2 linked regions of the Homo sapiens genome follow. The protein of the gene in region 1 purifies or fractionates together with the protein of each later gene. This does not show direct contact. Each region holds a gene or a part of one and is shown in the gene's direction. Other genes may lie near its edges.

Region 1 (8,295 bases):
TCCAGCCTGGACAACAAGAGCGAAACTCCATCTCAAAAATAAATAAATAAATAAATAAATAAATAAAATTAGCCAGGCATGATGGCGGGTGATTGTGGTCCCAGCCACTTCAGAGGCTGAAATGGGAGGATTGCTTGAGCCTGGGAGGCAGAGGTTGCAGTGAGTCAAGATTTGCACCCTCGCCTGGGTGACAGAGTGAGGCCCTGTCTACACCCCACTCCCATCAAAAACAAAAAGAGTATGGCTCAGAATGTCTCAACATGGTCTACAAACTTTTTAAGTCCTGACACTGGCTTTACCTCTGGCCCCTTTAACAATACTCACGACTTCCTTCATGTCTCCTGGATGGTTCTGGCTCCTTATTGCCTTGTGGCCTTTGACCTTGATTTTTTTTTCCTTTGTTTGGAATGTTCCTCCTCCCTACCCTGATGACAAAACTCCTCCTACTGGTTCAGAAAACTGGGCTCAGTTAGCCTTCTTCCATTCTCCCTTCCCTCTCCTCCAACCGCCAGCTGTGATCATCATTAACCTGCTCCCACTGTATTCAGAAGATAATAACATAAACAATAATAATAGCAGTTAGCCAAGCCTGGTGGCTCACACCTTTAATCACAGCTACACAGGAGGCTGTGGCAGGAGAACAGTTTGAGTCCAGAAGTTTGAGGCTGCAGTGAGCTACGATCATGCCATTGCACTCCAGCCTGTGTGACAGAGCAAGAAACCTGTCTCCAAAAATAAGAATAAAAATAAAATAACAAAAACCATTAATATTGGTTGAGCACTTCTATATACCAGTGTCTATATGTGAAGCTTTGAAGGCATTAACCAATTTAATCCACACAATGACCCTGTTGGGTAAACACATTTTTTTTTTTTTTGAGACAGAGTCTCCCTCTGTCACCCAGGCTGGAGTGCGGTGGCGCGATCTCTGCTCACTGCAACCTCCACGTCCCGGGTTCAAGCGATTCTCCTGCATCAGCTGCCTGAGTAGCTGGGATTACAGGTGTGCGCGTGGCGCCCGGCTAATTTTTTTTTTTGTATTTTTAGTAGAGATGGGATTTCAGCAAGTTGGTCAGGCTGGTCTCAAACTCCTGACCTGGTGATCTGCCCCCCCTCAGCCTCCCAAAGTGCTGGGATTACAGGGGTGAGCCACTGCGCCCAGCCTTTTTTTCGAGACAGAGTTTCGCTCTGTCACCCAGGCTGGAGTGCAGTGGCGCAATCTCGGCTCACTGCAACCTCTACTTCCCGGGTTCAAGCGATTCTCCTGCCTCAGCCTCCCAAGTAGCTGGGATTATAGGTGCCTGCCACCACACCCAGCTAATTTTTTGTATTTTTAGTAGAGATGGGGTTTTGCCATGTTGGCCAGGCTGGTCTCGAACTCATGGCCTCAAGTGATCTGCCCACCTCGGCCTCCCAAAGTGCTGGGATTACAGGCATGAGCCACTGTAAAGAATTTTTTTTAACATCTTTTTCTTTTTTTCTTTTTGAGAGGGAGTCTTGCTCTGTTGCCCAGGATGGAGTGCAGTGGCGCGATCTCGGCTCACTGCAACCTCTGCCTCCCAGGTTCAAGAGATTCTCCTGCCTCAGCCTCCCAAGTAGCTAGGATTATAGGCGCCTGCCACCACACCCGGCTAATTTTTTGTATTTTTAGTAGAGACAGGTTTTCACCATGTTGGCCAAGCTGGTCTCGAACTCCTGACCTCAGGTGATCCGCCCACCTTGGCCTCCCAAAGTGCTGAGATTACAGGTGTGAGCGACCACGCCTGGCCTTTAACATCCTTTTATTGTAACACTTATCTCATTGTTTTGAAATGGCTTATACCTATTAGTGTCTCCAATAGACAGTCTTATTCATATTCTTAGCACTAGCAACTATACAAGTTCTGTACACCTGTTTTTTTTTCAATATGATGAAGTCAACACTTGCATTTAACCAAACCTTGATTTCCAAGGATTGAGTAATGTGAGATTTTCAGTGCAGTGGTGGGAGAGGCTTGGAGTCTGAGCACAGGCTTTGGAGTCCCTCCAATCATATATCATCTTTGCCCTTGCACTAAATGGTATCCCCATCCTCTCAATTGCTTAAGGAAACAACCTGGGAGTCATCTCGTTTACTACCTTTCTTCACACCTGCACCTCGGGAAAATATCCTGAAATCTTTCAATTTCTATTTCCACACCAACCAGCCTAGTCCAGGTACCACCATCTACCCCCTGAACTTGCCCAATAACTTTGTATTGTTCTTCGGCTCCTTTTTGTTCCATTGCTGCTCCCTTCAAGTCATTCTCTATAAAATAGGTTGATTTAAAAAAAAAAATAAACCAATGGCCGGGCACGTGGCTCATGCCTGTAATCCCAGCAGTTTGGGAGGCTGAGGCGGGAGGATCACTTGAGCCCAGGAGTTCAGGACCAGCCTGGGCAACACAGCGAAACCCTGTCTCTACAAAAAATACAAAAATTAGTCTGGTGTGGTGACGCCCACCTGTAGTCCCAGGTACTAGGGAGGCTGAGGTGGGAAGATGACTTAGCGAGCCTGGGGAGGTAGAGGATGCAGTGAGCCCTGATTGCACCACTGCACTCCAGCCTGGGCGACAGAGTGAGACCCCATCTCAAAACAACAAAAACCCAAACCCTTCATTATCTTGCCTTTGCACTTAACAGATAAATCCAAACAACGTGATTAGGTTCCTGCTTAATGCTCCAAACTCAACTTCAAACCCCTATTTGACATGCTCAAGCCTCCTGGCCTGTTCCTCAAACAGCCACGCTTCAGCATCAGCCACAGTTCAGCATCGGGGCCTTGACACCCATTATCCTCTGTCTAGAATGTTCTTCCTCCCCATGGTTGGCTTGGCTGGCTCCTTCTTGTCATTTAGGTCTTAGCTCCTGAATTATCTCCTCAGAAAATCCTTCCCTGACCATTCTGTTTTGTTTTCTGCTCAGTACTTATCACTGCCAGTGATTATCTCATCTATTCGTTTTATTATTTATATTCTTCATTAGAAACATAAGCTTTTGTTGTTTGAGACAGAGTCCCACTGTGTTGACCAGGCTGCAGTGCAGTGGCATGATTTTTTGGCTCACTGCATCCTCCGTCCCTCACCCCCCATCCCCCACCACAAGCAATCCTCTTATCTCAGCCTCCCGAGTAGCTGGGACCATAGGGGCCTGCCACAATTCCCAGCAAATTTTGTTGTCATTGTTGTTGTTGTTGTTGTTGTTTTTAAATTCTGTAGAGAGGGAGTCTCACTATGTTGCTCAGGCTGGTCTTGGACTCCTGGCCTCAAAGTGATCCTCCTGCCTCAGCCTCCCAAAGTGCTGGGATTATAGGCTTGAGCCACCTGTTTGTTTCCTTTCATACCTAGTCCTGCAGAACATAAGCCTCTAAGTGCAGGGGCTTCTTCTGTTTATTCACCACTGTATTTCTAGCACCAAGAATACTATCAATATTTTTTGAATGAATGAATCAAACAGTGAAAAGGCCAGTCATCTTGGTGTATATAGAAGGTAGCCAACAGAGACCCAATAGAAATGAGTGCCTATGTTCCTACTGCTCTATAACTAGTGGGAGTGGGGAGGGGAAGCAGCTGGGGGTCTACCAGACCCTGTCACCAACTAGTCAGCACACGTGGCAATCACAGTTGTAGAAGAGGCCAAACGGAGCAGATCTGCCAATGACAGCCAGTACTAAACTCGACTGGATGCTGAGGGCCATTTCTGCTTTGAGTGAACAGTGCAGCCTGCTGGGTGGCCAAGGGAACGTGTACAAATCCACTTTGTTTAAAGGACCCAGAGAGTAGTCAGTTCTGCTAAACCTCATCTGTTTGTTCAGGGATTTTTGTCCTGGGGAGGAGTGGGGAAGAAGCGATTAGTCAGGCCAGGCTAGCTGGTATTAGTTTGCAGGCTGTGAGTGCGACTCTTCAGTCTCTGCTCCTCTCATCATTGCCTTTTCACCTACCTTTACCCTAAATTTACGTACACCTCTGCCTTCACAAATTCCAAGCGATTAACTGTTGTATTTAATCTCTGTCCCAAATCTCTCTGCATCATTCTTCTTTTGATTATGAAGTCACGAGGGCCCTTTGTTTATTTTATTTTTAAAACTTTTTTTGAGAAGGAGTTTAGCTCTTATTGCCCAGGCTGGAGTGCAATGGCACAATCTAGGCTCACTGCAACCTCTGGCTTCCGGGTTCAAGCAATCCTCCTGCCTCAGCCTCCCGAATAGCTGGGATTACAGGCGCGCGCCACCAAGCCCGGCTAATTTTTTGTATTTAGTAGAGACGGGGTTTCACCATGTTGGTCAGGCTGGTCTCGATCCTAACCTCAGGTGACCCAGCCACCTCGGTCTCCCAAAGTGTTGGGATTACAGGCGTGAGCCACCGCACCTGGCCTCAAGGGCCCTTAAATATTACTTAGTTGTTCCATTATTTGGTGTGTTTTATTATTTGGTGCAGGTTTTTTCCCCTTATCTAGTTTGAATGTTGCTGAAGGACGCTGGTTTTCAAACGGTAAGGAATCTCCTGATAAAGGCACGAATCTTGGTGTGCAGATAAGCCAGCGATTCTTGCTTCTGGCTAGTTCTACGTTGTTCCTGGATGGTCAGTTCAAACTGCAATGATCCACAGCTCCAGAAGCGGCTTCTTCCAGTCGGCCTAGGAGCCAAACGCCCCTGCAGCTCCATGCTACCACGCAGGGTGCCGTTTCGGGCTTGCAGGGAGTTGTCGCAGTCCCGTTTTGGCTGCACATTCTACTGCTGGGGTGGAAGTGTCAAGCAAGATGTTGTCGCCGGTATCATGATGTCCGGGTGAGAAGCTTCCTTGGCAGGTTGCCAGGGCCAGCCTGCGAGCACTGGCGCCGGGGACCCGCGCGCCCGGGAAGGGGCGGGGAGGTGGGCGGAGCCTGGCAACCTGGGGACCACCAATAGGATGCTCAGCCGGAGGTGGCCCTGCGCGTGACGCAGCGGTGCTCGGAGGCAGGGGGCGTAGGGGCCGGGCTGTCCGGCGCTTTAGCTTAGCAGGCGACGTTGCGGGCCCTGGGCGCCAGGAGAGCTTCCCGGAGTCGACCTTCCTGCTGGCTGCTCTGTGACCGCTTCCCGGCTCTGCCCTCTTGGCCGAAGTGCCCGCTGCCGGGCGCGGGCCTCAGGTAACGGTGGTGCTCCCGCGCCTCTCCTCGCTTCCCGCTTGGGTCCACCGGCCTCAGCCCGCGGGGAAGGGAGAAGCGGTGGCGGCAGCAGCTCCGGCCCGGCCTTGTCCTGGGCTGTGCTGCGGAGAAGGCGAGGCTCGGCGACTGCAGGGGAGTTGGGGAGGGGAGGGCGGGAAAGTTACCGTCAGGCGCCCGGGTCACGGGCAGCCTTTTAAACCCTGCACGCTGGTTTGGTGTTCCGCAAATCTCGTGGCATCTCTCAAGTCAGTAGTAAAGAAAGTTAGGAATTAGAAGACGTTTTATTCTTTAAAAAGCGAAACCAAAAATGCACTCAGGAAGTCAGCTTTTTAATGATTTAGAGAAAATGTGTGAAGGGAAGGATGGTATTAGCAAGACATGAAAATCTGTAGGGGCACCAGAACCTTTAATCAAGCTCATGTTTTATTGTAAAATATTAGGATGTAGGTAAGTTTCTGTTTTCCCTAAGTGTTAATGGTCATGTAATTTAAATAATATGTATATTGAAAGGTTATTTCTAAGTGAGAAACAACTATATAAACTTTATTCTCCGTATATATATTTAGGTTAAGTTCGTTGGTCACTTTTGTTTGTTTGAGACGGAGTCTCGCTGTGTCGCAAGGCTGGAGTGCAGTGGCGCAATCTCGGCTCACTGCAACCTCTGCCTCCCGGGTTCAAGCGATTCTTGTGCCTCAGCCTCCTGAGTAGCTGGGATTACAGGCGTGCGCCACCACGCCCAGGTAATTTTTGTAGTTTTAGTAGAGACGGGGTTTCACCATGTTGGACCAGGTTGGTCTCAAACTCCTGACCTCAAGTGATCCGCCCGCTTCGGCCTCCCAAAGTGCTGGGATTACAGGCGTGAGCCACCGCGCCTGGCCTGTTGGTCACTTTTTAATATTTAAGTGGCTGCCACCTGTTTAAACCACTTTTTTCTTTTTTTCAGCCTGCTTGATTTCCTCTTCCTTGAAGTAGAATTCAATTTGAAGCTTTTTTTTTTTCTTTTTAAAAGTTGGGCGGTGTCAGTGAATGACTTGTTAAGGAAGTCTGTGCGTTGTCTGGGTGTGAGAATGGGTTTTGGAAGGAGCTCTGTGGCACTGAATTATCGTTTAGAAATGCACGTGTTTTAGTGAATCACATGCTTAGAATGCATCTGAGGTTTCGCAGTCTTTTAGGATAAAGACCTACTGAGTGAGCACACTCTATCTCTGGTTCATTTGGCCCACTTTCCTTCTGGCTTTCCAGGTTCATGCCACACTGGCTTTATTTTTGTTACTGGAAAGCTTCATTTTCTTTCCTCTCTTGGCTTTTAGGAGTTTCCTCCACCTCTAATGCTGTATTCTCTCCCTCCCTCCAACTCTTATACCTGCCTCAGATATCAGCCCACATATCACTTCCTCTGGAAATCACCCCATCCCCATTAAGCCCTCCATGAACTCTTTATTCTCCTTAGCAGAAGTTGATCATTAATTGTAATGAATTAGTTGCTTTGTTTCCTCTGCTAGTGCATTTCATGAAGGCTGGTTTAGCCTGTTGTAATTTTCAGGGTCTGGTCCAGCACTTGGCCCAGAGAAAGAATGAATAAGTTGGTGGACAGAGGAAGGAACTTTTGAATGAGAAATACAGTGATCCCCACTTAACTGCTTTCTGTAGTTTCAGCTACCTGAGGTGCGAAACAGAGTACAATAAGACATTTCGAGAGATACCATGTTCAAGTGAATTTTAATACAGTATATTGTTAATCTCTTACTGTGCCTAACTTTTTGAAACTTTGCCTCCCAGGTTCAAGGGATATTCATGCCCCAGCCTCCCAAGTAGCTGGGATTACAGGCGTGTCCCAGTACGCCCGGCTAATTTTTTTTTTTTTTTTTGAGATGGAGTTTGGCGCTTGTTGCCCAGGCTGGAATGGCACGATCTCGGCTCCCCGCAACCTCCGCCTCCCGGGTTCAAGCGATTCTCCGCCTCAGCCTCCCAAGTAGCTGGGATTACGGGCATGTGCTACCACGCCCGGCTAATTTTTTTTTTTTTTTTTTTTTTTTTTTTTTTTTTTAGTAAAGACTGATCAGATCTTACTGGTCAGGCTGGTCTCGAACTTCCAACCTCAGGTGATCCACCCGCCTCAGCCTCCCAAAGTGCTGGGATTACAGGCGTGAGCCACCGCGCCCAGCTCACCCGGCTAATTTTTGTATTTTTAGTAGAGACAGGGAGGGTTTCACTGTGTTGGCCAGACTGGTCTCAAACTCCTGATCTCAGATGATCGGTCTGCCTCGGCCTCCCAAAGAGGTGGGATTACAGGCGTGAGCCACTGTGCCCAGCCTGTAAATGAAACTTTATAATAGGTATGTATAGGAAAAAACAACGTGTATTGGGTTCACTGTTATTCACAGTTCTAGGCATCCACTGGGAGTCTTGGACCGTATCCCCCATGGATATGGGAGAACTACTGTATTAACCAGGGAAGAGTCCCTTTTTCCTATGGGAAAAAGTTTTTAACAAAGACCAGCCAAGTTCTATTTTTCTAAGAGGATGGCTTTGTTTTGCATTTTTTTTGCCACATTGGTTAATAAGAGATTATACTAACCATACAGATGTAAATGAGAATTTGTTCTTGTTCTTTAGTTTTGCTAATTACTTAAAGACCTAGTTCTGTGATATGTAAAAGTTGTAGCGTTGTGTTAGGGCCAACCTTTGGGTGCCAGAGGGAAATTTTTTTTGCTCTGGATTGTAAATTCTATCCACAGTTGTGTCCCCTTTCCACCACTGAATCTAAGGGTGATGTGGCAAAGTTCTTTACCTGGAGTAGGCACTCAGTATTTGTGATACAGATTTATGGGCTCTTTTGAAAGCTGTATTAATGGGAACACGGAGGCAGGCTAAAGTTGACATGTCTTTCCAAGTTCATTTGTTTCTCAAATCATTTCTTTTTGTTTTGCTTTCTTAAGATAAGTTAGATGCTTATCACACTGAACATTATGTAATTGCGTGCACAGATTAGATTCTTAAGAAATTCTTTTTCAATCAGTGTGTTGTATAAATAGCTGTCTACTTAGCTTTGTTACCTGGGGGGGAATAGCTTTATGTTACCTGTGACTTTGAACAAGTTTGTTAGCATTTCTGAATCTCCTGCATCTTTAAAAA
Region 2 (7,713 bases), on another chromosome or scaffold:
GAGCTCAAGACTGCACTGGGCCACTGTCACACCACTGCATTTCAGCCTGGGTGAAACAGTGAGACCCTGTCTCTAAAAAAAAAAAAAATAAAGTAAAATAAATACAATCATACAGTATGTAACCCTTTGAGATTGCCCTTTTTTCCATTCAGCATAATCCCTTTGAGATTCTTCCAAATTATTACATATATCAAGAGTTCATTACTTTGTATTGCTGAGTAGCTACAGTTTGTTTAACCATTCATCTGCTGAAGGACATTTGGGTTGTTTTCAATTTCTGGCTTTTACAAATAAAGCTGCTATGAACTTTTATGTACAGGTTTTTGTGTGTACATGTTTTCATTTATCTGAGATAAATGTCTAAGAGCGTAATTGCTGGGTTGTATGGTAAGTGCACGTTCAGTTTTGTAAAAAAAAATCACTATACTCTTTGCATGACAGTTCCCAGTGGCCTTGGACTGATCAACTTCTCCCCAGTTTCTCACTTGTATTAATAGTTCTCAAGAATAACTGTAGAATGTGCTAGGAATGCAATATCCTGAGATAAGGAGGGACTGGCTGAAACAGCCCAGGCTCTGTTCCAGTCCCTCCTAGAAACAGGATGTCCTTCATCATTTTAGCCCAACATGTCATGTTGCCTCCAGAATATAAAACCCAAGATGGTCTGCTTTCCAGGGTCACTCAGCTGTGGTACAAATGGGGTACACACAAATGAGACTCCATCCTTCCGGGGCAACTTTCCTGAGTCTCGGGAGATTGGCTCACAGTGAATCCTATGCTTCGGTTTTCCCTTGTTGCCTAGCTGTAAATAATAAATTCACTTCATGTAACTTGTACACATGGGTGTTCTGTCTCACCAGACTCAGTTGGTAACCAGTGCACAGCAAACCTGCTTTGCACTCTTTTCCAGAGTGGCTGCACCGTGTTACATTTCCAGCAGCAGTGTGCAAATGTATGTAAGCAGTTTAAGTGCTTAACCAACAGTTCTTCAGAATAACTAACAAAAGCACGATGGTGCTTTTTACTTATTAATTCCTGGAGATTAATTGGTCTCCTTCTGATAAAAACATTCCAAATCTTTCAGCTCAAATCACTCTATGGTTTGGGAAGATATCAGTGGAAGAAACTCACTGCAAAGAAGTTAAGTCAAAGAAGTCCTAAGAAAAGTGTTTTAAAACAAGGCTAAAACTTTATTCTAAAGACAACTGAGAGTAGGGAAGGTAACTAAGATTTATTGAGCCTATATACCAGGCATTTTTCAGTCTTTATCTCATGTATTCCTCCCAATGACCCTGTAAAAAGGGTAATATGTCTATTTCATAAATATTACAATTGCCGAGCTTGGTGGCCCATGCCTGTAATCCTAGTACTTTGGAGGCCAAGGCAGAAATATCGCTTGAGCTCAGGAGTTCAAGATCAGCCTGGGCAAAATAATGAGACCTCATCTCTATTAAAAATTTAAAAAAACATTAGCTAGGAGTGGTGGCGCATGCCTGTTGTCCCAGCTACTCAGGAGGCTGAGGTGGGAGGATCACGTAAGGCCAGGAGGTCAAGGCTTCAGTAAGCCATGATCACATCACTGCCCTCCAGCCTGGGTGACAGAGCCAGACTCTGTACCCCACCCCACTCAAAAAAAAGTAAGAAAGAAAAGAAAAAGAAATATAAGAAATATTGCAATTGAAGCTTTACATAATGTTTCATACAGGTTATGGAATTACTAGGTGGTGAAGTGAGAGTGAGAGGCCCATACTTGTAGCTTCTGCTGCCTTCAGCTCAGGGCAAAGAAACATAGAAGGCAATCAACATGTTTGTTGAAAAAAAAAAAGAATAAATGAATGAGTGACTTAACTTCAGCTCTGCTATTTATGTGTCCCTGGGCAGGAAAATTAATTTCTTTGAGTCTATTTCTTCATTTCTTATAGCAAGATAATAATGACATCTAGTTCACAGAGCTAAGGGACAAATAAGGTGATAAACTGGGAAAACAATTTGAAAAATATTAATTAAACAAATGTTAGCTAGCATAATATTTAAAAAGTACAGTCACAGTCATAAACAAATATTGATAAATATAGGTATGAGAGGAGGGTGGGTGTATGAAGATCACTTAATATCTCTGATTCCCTGGTTTCCTCACCTGTAAGATCACAACTGAGTTTAAAGCTGAGCACCTTCATGACACAGACTCTAAGACTCACCAAGTTAGGAGACAGAGTCAAGGAAGCCTCTGCACATAACTTTAATTTGAAAATGTTTATTCTACCTCCGAGGATATTTCAAAGTATGGAGCTGATTATCTTTATCCATGACATTCTGGCCTTTATCAATTAGGTCATTCAGACCTATATCAATACATTTAATGAATTACAACATGTAAAACTTCTGTGCATGTGTACATGAGAACAGTATTAGAAACAGCTACTACTATGAGTGTTTATACATAACTTCCGAACAATTAGTGTTTGGAAAAATAGACATTAGATAGAAAATCTGGAAGAATGGGCAAGGAATTGGTATATTGTGTCTGGAGAGGAACATAGCTGGCTAGGGACAGGTAAAACAATTATTCACACTTGGCCGAGCGTGGCGGCTCACGCCTGTAATCCCAGCACTTTGGGAGGCCCAGGCAGGTGGATTGCCTGAGTTCAGGGAGACTAACCTGCGCAACATGGTGAAATCCCGTCTCTACTTTAGTATTTTCAAATACAAAAAATTAGCCAGGTGTGGTGGCGCATGCCTGTAATCCCAGCTACTCGGGATGCTGAGGCAGGAGAATCGCTTGAGCCTGGAAGGCCGGGAGGTTGCAGTGAGCTGAGATCGTGCCACTGCACTCCAGCCTGGGCAGCAGAGCGAGACTGTCTCCAATTCATATTTGTAATCCTTTGCACTTTCTTTTTGAATTTTGAAACATGTATTACTGCATTACTATTAATAGACTCACGTTTTAGAAAACTTTTATATAAAAATGTTGTCATTTTAAGCATTACCTTTATTTCAACTATTAATTTAAATTATGAAAATATGAAGCCACTTCACTTTCAATATGGTTGTAACTTTTTAACAGACTTTGTGGTCACTGGGCATATTTAACCCCTCGAATAAAGCAATCTTTCCCTTTTATCATTACTTTGTAAGACTCATTTGCTGGGTGGTGGATTAAATTGAACAGAATAAGTTATTTCTTTTTCTTTTCTTTTTTTTTTTTTTTTGAGACGCTGTCTCGCTCTGTCGCCCAGGCTGGATGGCACGATCTCGGCTCACTGCAAGCTCCGCCTCCCGGGTTCACGCCATTCTCCTGCCTCAGTCTCCAGAGCAGCTGCGACTACAGGCGCCAGCCACCAAGCCCGGCTAATTTTTTGTGTTTTTAGTAGAGACGGGGTTTCACCATGTAAGCCAGGATGGTCTTGATCTCCTGACCTCGTCATCCGCCCACCTAGGCCTTCCAAAGTGCTGGGATTACAAGCGTGATTCACCGCGCCCGGCCCCAGAATAAGTTATTTCCCAAGAGCCACCCTTAGATGCTGGTAGGTGTAATGGTCTTCCCAAGACCAGGTGCTGGATAGAAGGTCCTTGCATTTTCCTCATCTGTTGCCATCCTCAGTAAAGGAGGAATTAGGACTGCCGCAAGCCCCTAAAGACTGGAAAGATGGGACGGGCGCGATGGCTCACGCCTGTAATCCCAGCAATTTGGGAGGCCGAGGAGGGTGGATCGCCTGAGGCCAGGAATTCCAGACCAGCCTGGCCAACATGGTGAAACCCCATCTCTACTAAAAATACTAAAATTAGCCGGGCGTGGTGGCGCGCGCCTGTAATCCCAGCCACTCGGGAGGCAGAAGCAGGAGAATCGCTTGAACCCAGGAAGCAGAGGTTGCAATGAGCCGAGATCGCACCACTGCACTCCAGCCTGGGCGACAGAGTGGGGAAAAAAAAAAAAGTGAAAAGATGATGGCGCCCACTTCCGACCCCCTTAAGTAATTAAAAATAGGAATTCATTTAGGAAGTGAATTAAAACTTAAATTAGGGTGGATACAAGACGTTCCTTCTAGACTTTCTGAAATAAAAATTCCGAATAAAATCATCAAAGCCGAACTTTTCCTTTTTGCCTTTCCCTTCTTTGCTAGTGCCTGGGACCGCGTTCAGCCTCCAGCTCAACAATCCGGCACTCGCCGGCTTTTAAGTCCCACCCACGCGGCCGCGCACAGGTAACGGCAGTGCCAGTCCCACCCCACCTACGAGCTCCTCCTCCGCCTCCCACCAAGGGGCCTTGGCCCCGCCCTTGGAAGCGTGGTTGTGACGTCAGCGCGCTGTCTCCGAAGCCCGGCAGCAAATGAGCGCAGACCGCACGGGCCCTCCGCGTACCAAGGCACACGCATGCGCATTGGTTCTGGGAGCCCTGAAGACCTGGCGGAGCCCAGCGCGGATGGAGGCCTGAGGGTGGCGGGGGCGGAGCGCGCCGCGAGCTGGGGGCATGTCCGCGGCGGGCGCCGTCTAGAGGAAGGCCAAGCAGCCGCCACCACGCTGTCGGTCGCGGAGAGACGCAAGCGAGCCAGGCCGAGGGCCGCGGCGGCGATGCAGCGACGGCGTCGCCCTCCGCCGCCCACCTCCCGGCTGCCCGAGGGCTGCGGGGGAGGAGGCGGTGGCAGCGAGGAGGTGGAAGTGCAGTTTTCCGCCGGGCGTTGGGGCTCGGCCGCGGCGGTTTCGGCGGCAGCGGCGGCGGCCACGCGCAGCACCGAGGAGGAGGAGGAGAGGCTTGAGCGTGAGCACTTCTGGAAGATCATTAATGCCTTCCGCTACTACGGGTAAGGAGCCCGTGGCGGACCCCGGCCCAGACCGTCGGGGCGCCCACTGGTGGCGGCGGACCCGCCGGAACGGGGGCGCTCGCCGTCCCGCCGCCACGCCTCCGAGGCGTCGGGACCCGGCTGCTGCAGCTGACCTCCGGGCCCCGAGTCACCTCGCACCACCCCAGCCCCTCCCGGCCCTGCACACCCGCGTGTCCGCCGCGCCGTCTGCTGCACAGCCTCGTGTCTTCTGACCTCAGGATCAGATTAGCTCTCCTGCCTCCGTCCTCGTAAAGGTTTGGCTTTGAGGCCGATGGGGGTGACCAGAGAAGCGCTGTAACAATTTCAGATAGAAGACGATGGTGGTACAATCGTCCACTGCTGGGCTGATTGGTGTGTGTGGTCGATGTCCTCCAAACTGAACACACGGAGAGCCCAAGTTCACCTACGCGTGGGATGCTGTAGGACGTATTTTCCCAAACTGTTACCAGTGCTTGTAAGAGCAGTTTAAGATTTCCACCCACCCCTCTTTGGCGCTGTGAACGCACTTGCACTTTTGTGTGAGCGATTGAATGATGCTGCTCAGTGTCTTTAACTGGTGGGTGATTAAGGGCGGAAGTGGTCCGGATATTCTAAAATTTGCTAATTATTAGGAGAGATGAGAGAAGTCACAATAAGAGCTGCCTTTACGTTCTTTTTTTCTGCAAATCTGTATCTAATTCTCCCTGGTGTGCTAGGCACTGTGGTAGGACCTTTATGCTCCTCATTCATAAAAACAGCTCCCTAACTTCCACGTTTCTTCTAGATAGATGTTAAAGTAGCTTAATCACAAAATTATAATTCCAAGAGCTGAAAGGGACTTAAATCAACTGGATTTTCAGGTGAAGATAACACTTTTATTCACGTAAGAGATATGAGTCCACCGGTGACTATGTTCTGAGGCTGCAGTTGGAATCAGACAGACATGACCTCCTACGCAGGTAAACCTGTTCCCATAGGTGGGTTCCTGCTGTGCTTTATGCAAAGTTTTTTTATATTGTTCATCTTATGTATTATAGTTGTTTTTATAAATCTCTTGCTTTGCTGTGACCTCCTCAAGGGCAGGGGCTGAGTCTTTTTTATTTTTATGTCACTAGTGCTTGGCATATGTTGTTTAAGCTCTATTTTTAACAAAACAAATAGTAGCAAAGAAATACATTTCTCATTCCCAAATAGTCTGTCAAGTTTTTGACTGATAGTTAAATTAGTTTACTAGTCTGAATTTAGAAGCTTGCTTAGTGAAAGCTTAAAGTTATTTGGAATCTGATTGTATATGTGATAGGAACTTTTGAACTTCGAAGATCTTGATGAAATAATTTACTGATTAAACCCAGAAATAGGGACCAGGGACAGCATTACTTTACGGAGCCCAAAAGAGAAGTTTGGATATTTTATTTCTCCAGGTTTAGTAGTAACAGAGGGAGCAAGGCGTCAGACCATCAGAGAATTGAATTTGATGCAGGAATTGTGACGGAAAGAACCATAAAGTTAGGAAAGGCAGCTAACATCAGATAGCTAAGAGTGGGAGATACAGAAAAGTCTGGTACATTTTGCTCTTGAAAAATCTAGAAAGAATATTGGGAAATGTCTTGGGAATATGGTGGACCCATTTAGTTAAGTGCGTAGTTGTACTTACTTTTAATATATTAGGACCAATTTAAAATTGATATTTATGGGTAAGTATGGGATGGGACTTTGTTGGGGTAGGGGTTGATCAGGAACTGAAGTGTGGCAATATAGAGAAGAGATCTTGTGTGAATATTCTAGTGGTTGTGATACTATTTCCTATACTCTCTTCTTTACCAGCGTAATGTTGGATTCAGGACATTTCATTTTTTAAAAAAAACAGTTTTTATTTGTATATACTCTCTTGAAACACTTCAAATACTTGGGCTGAAAATAGTATAACATCAAAAATATGCTTTTTAAAATGTCACTTAAAGCCTAGGGGTACAGAAAGTTTATGTAGCAGAGAACAGTGGATTGTTACATTCTAATATTTTGTGATCTTCTAGACTTAAACTGTAGCCACTAATCATATCTGGATAAATTTAAGCTAAAATTAATTAGTATTTAATAAGCTTTAAAATTTAGTTGCTCAGTTTCACTACCCATATTTCAGGTGCTCAATAGCTACATGTGGCTAGAGTCTGCTGTACTGGACAGTGCAAATAAAAGCTTTTCCATTATCGAAGTAGGTTGTGATGGACAATCCGGTTCTACACATTTAGCAAGTACAGTTGACCCTTAAACAATATGGATCTGAACTGCACGGGTCCACTTATACACAAATTTTTTGAAATAAACATATTGGAAAATTGTTTTGACATTTGCAACAATTTGAAAAACTTAGCAAACTTGCATAGCCTAGAAATAGTGAAAAAATTAAGAAAAAATTATGCCATGAATGCATATGTGTAGATACTAGTTTATCATTTACTACCATAAAATATACACAAATCTATTATAAAAAGTTAAAATTTATCAAAACTTACACAAACACAGATCTTACATGGAGCTATTTGCAATTGAGATAAATGTAAACAAGCAAAGATGTAGCATTAAATCTTAGTTGCATAAAATTATCTGTAGTAGATACTGTACTACTGTAATAATTTTGTAGCCACTTCCTGTTGCTTTTGCAGTAAGCTCAGATGTTACCAGTATCTTCTTAAAATAATCACTCTGCTTTTGTCTGTCAAGTAAATTGCATATAGCAGTAAACAGATTTCATCAAATTTAATGCAATACCATAAACCTTAAATAACACCATGGGTCCCATATGACGTGCCACTGGTGATGCTGCAGGTGCTCCCAAGAAGCAGAGAAAAAAGACATTACAAGAAAAAGTTGATTTGTTTGATATGTACTGTAGATAGAGGTCTGCAGTTGGAGG

The links.
Region 2: the proteins of SOAT1 (region 1) and CARNMT1 purify together in Homo sapiens (affinity purification with mass spectrometry; 2 studies listed by BioGRID and IntAct, with this or other methods). This does not show direct contact.

Annotation. Positions count from the first base shown.
Region 1 is NC_000001.11:179,288,795-179,297,089, forward strand, and holds the start of SOAT1 (sterol O-acyltransferase 1), read left to right. Parts: upstream 1-5,002; 5' UTR 5,003-5,142; exon of another isoform or gene 5,143-5,607; intron 5,608-8,295.
Region 2 is NC_000009.12:75,025,098-75,032,810, reverse strand, and holds the start of CARNMT1 (carnosine N-methyltransferase), read left to right. Parts: upstream 1-4,517; 5' UTR 4,518-4,569; coding exon 4,570-4,799; intron 4,800-5,659; exon of another isoform or gene 5,660-5,758; intron 5,759-7,713.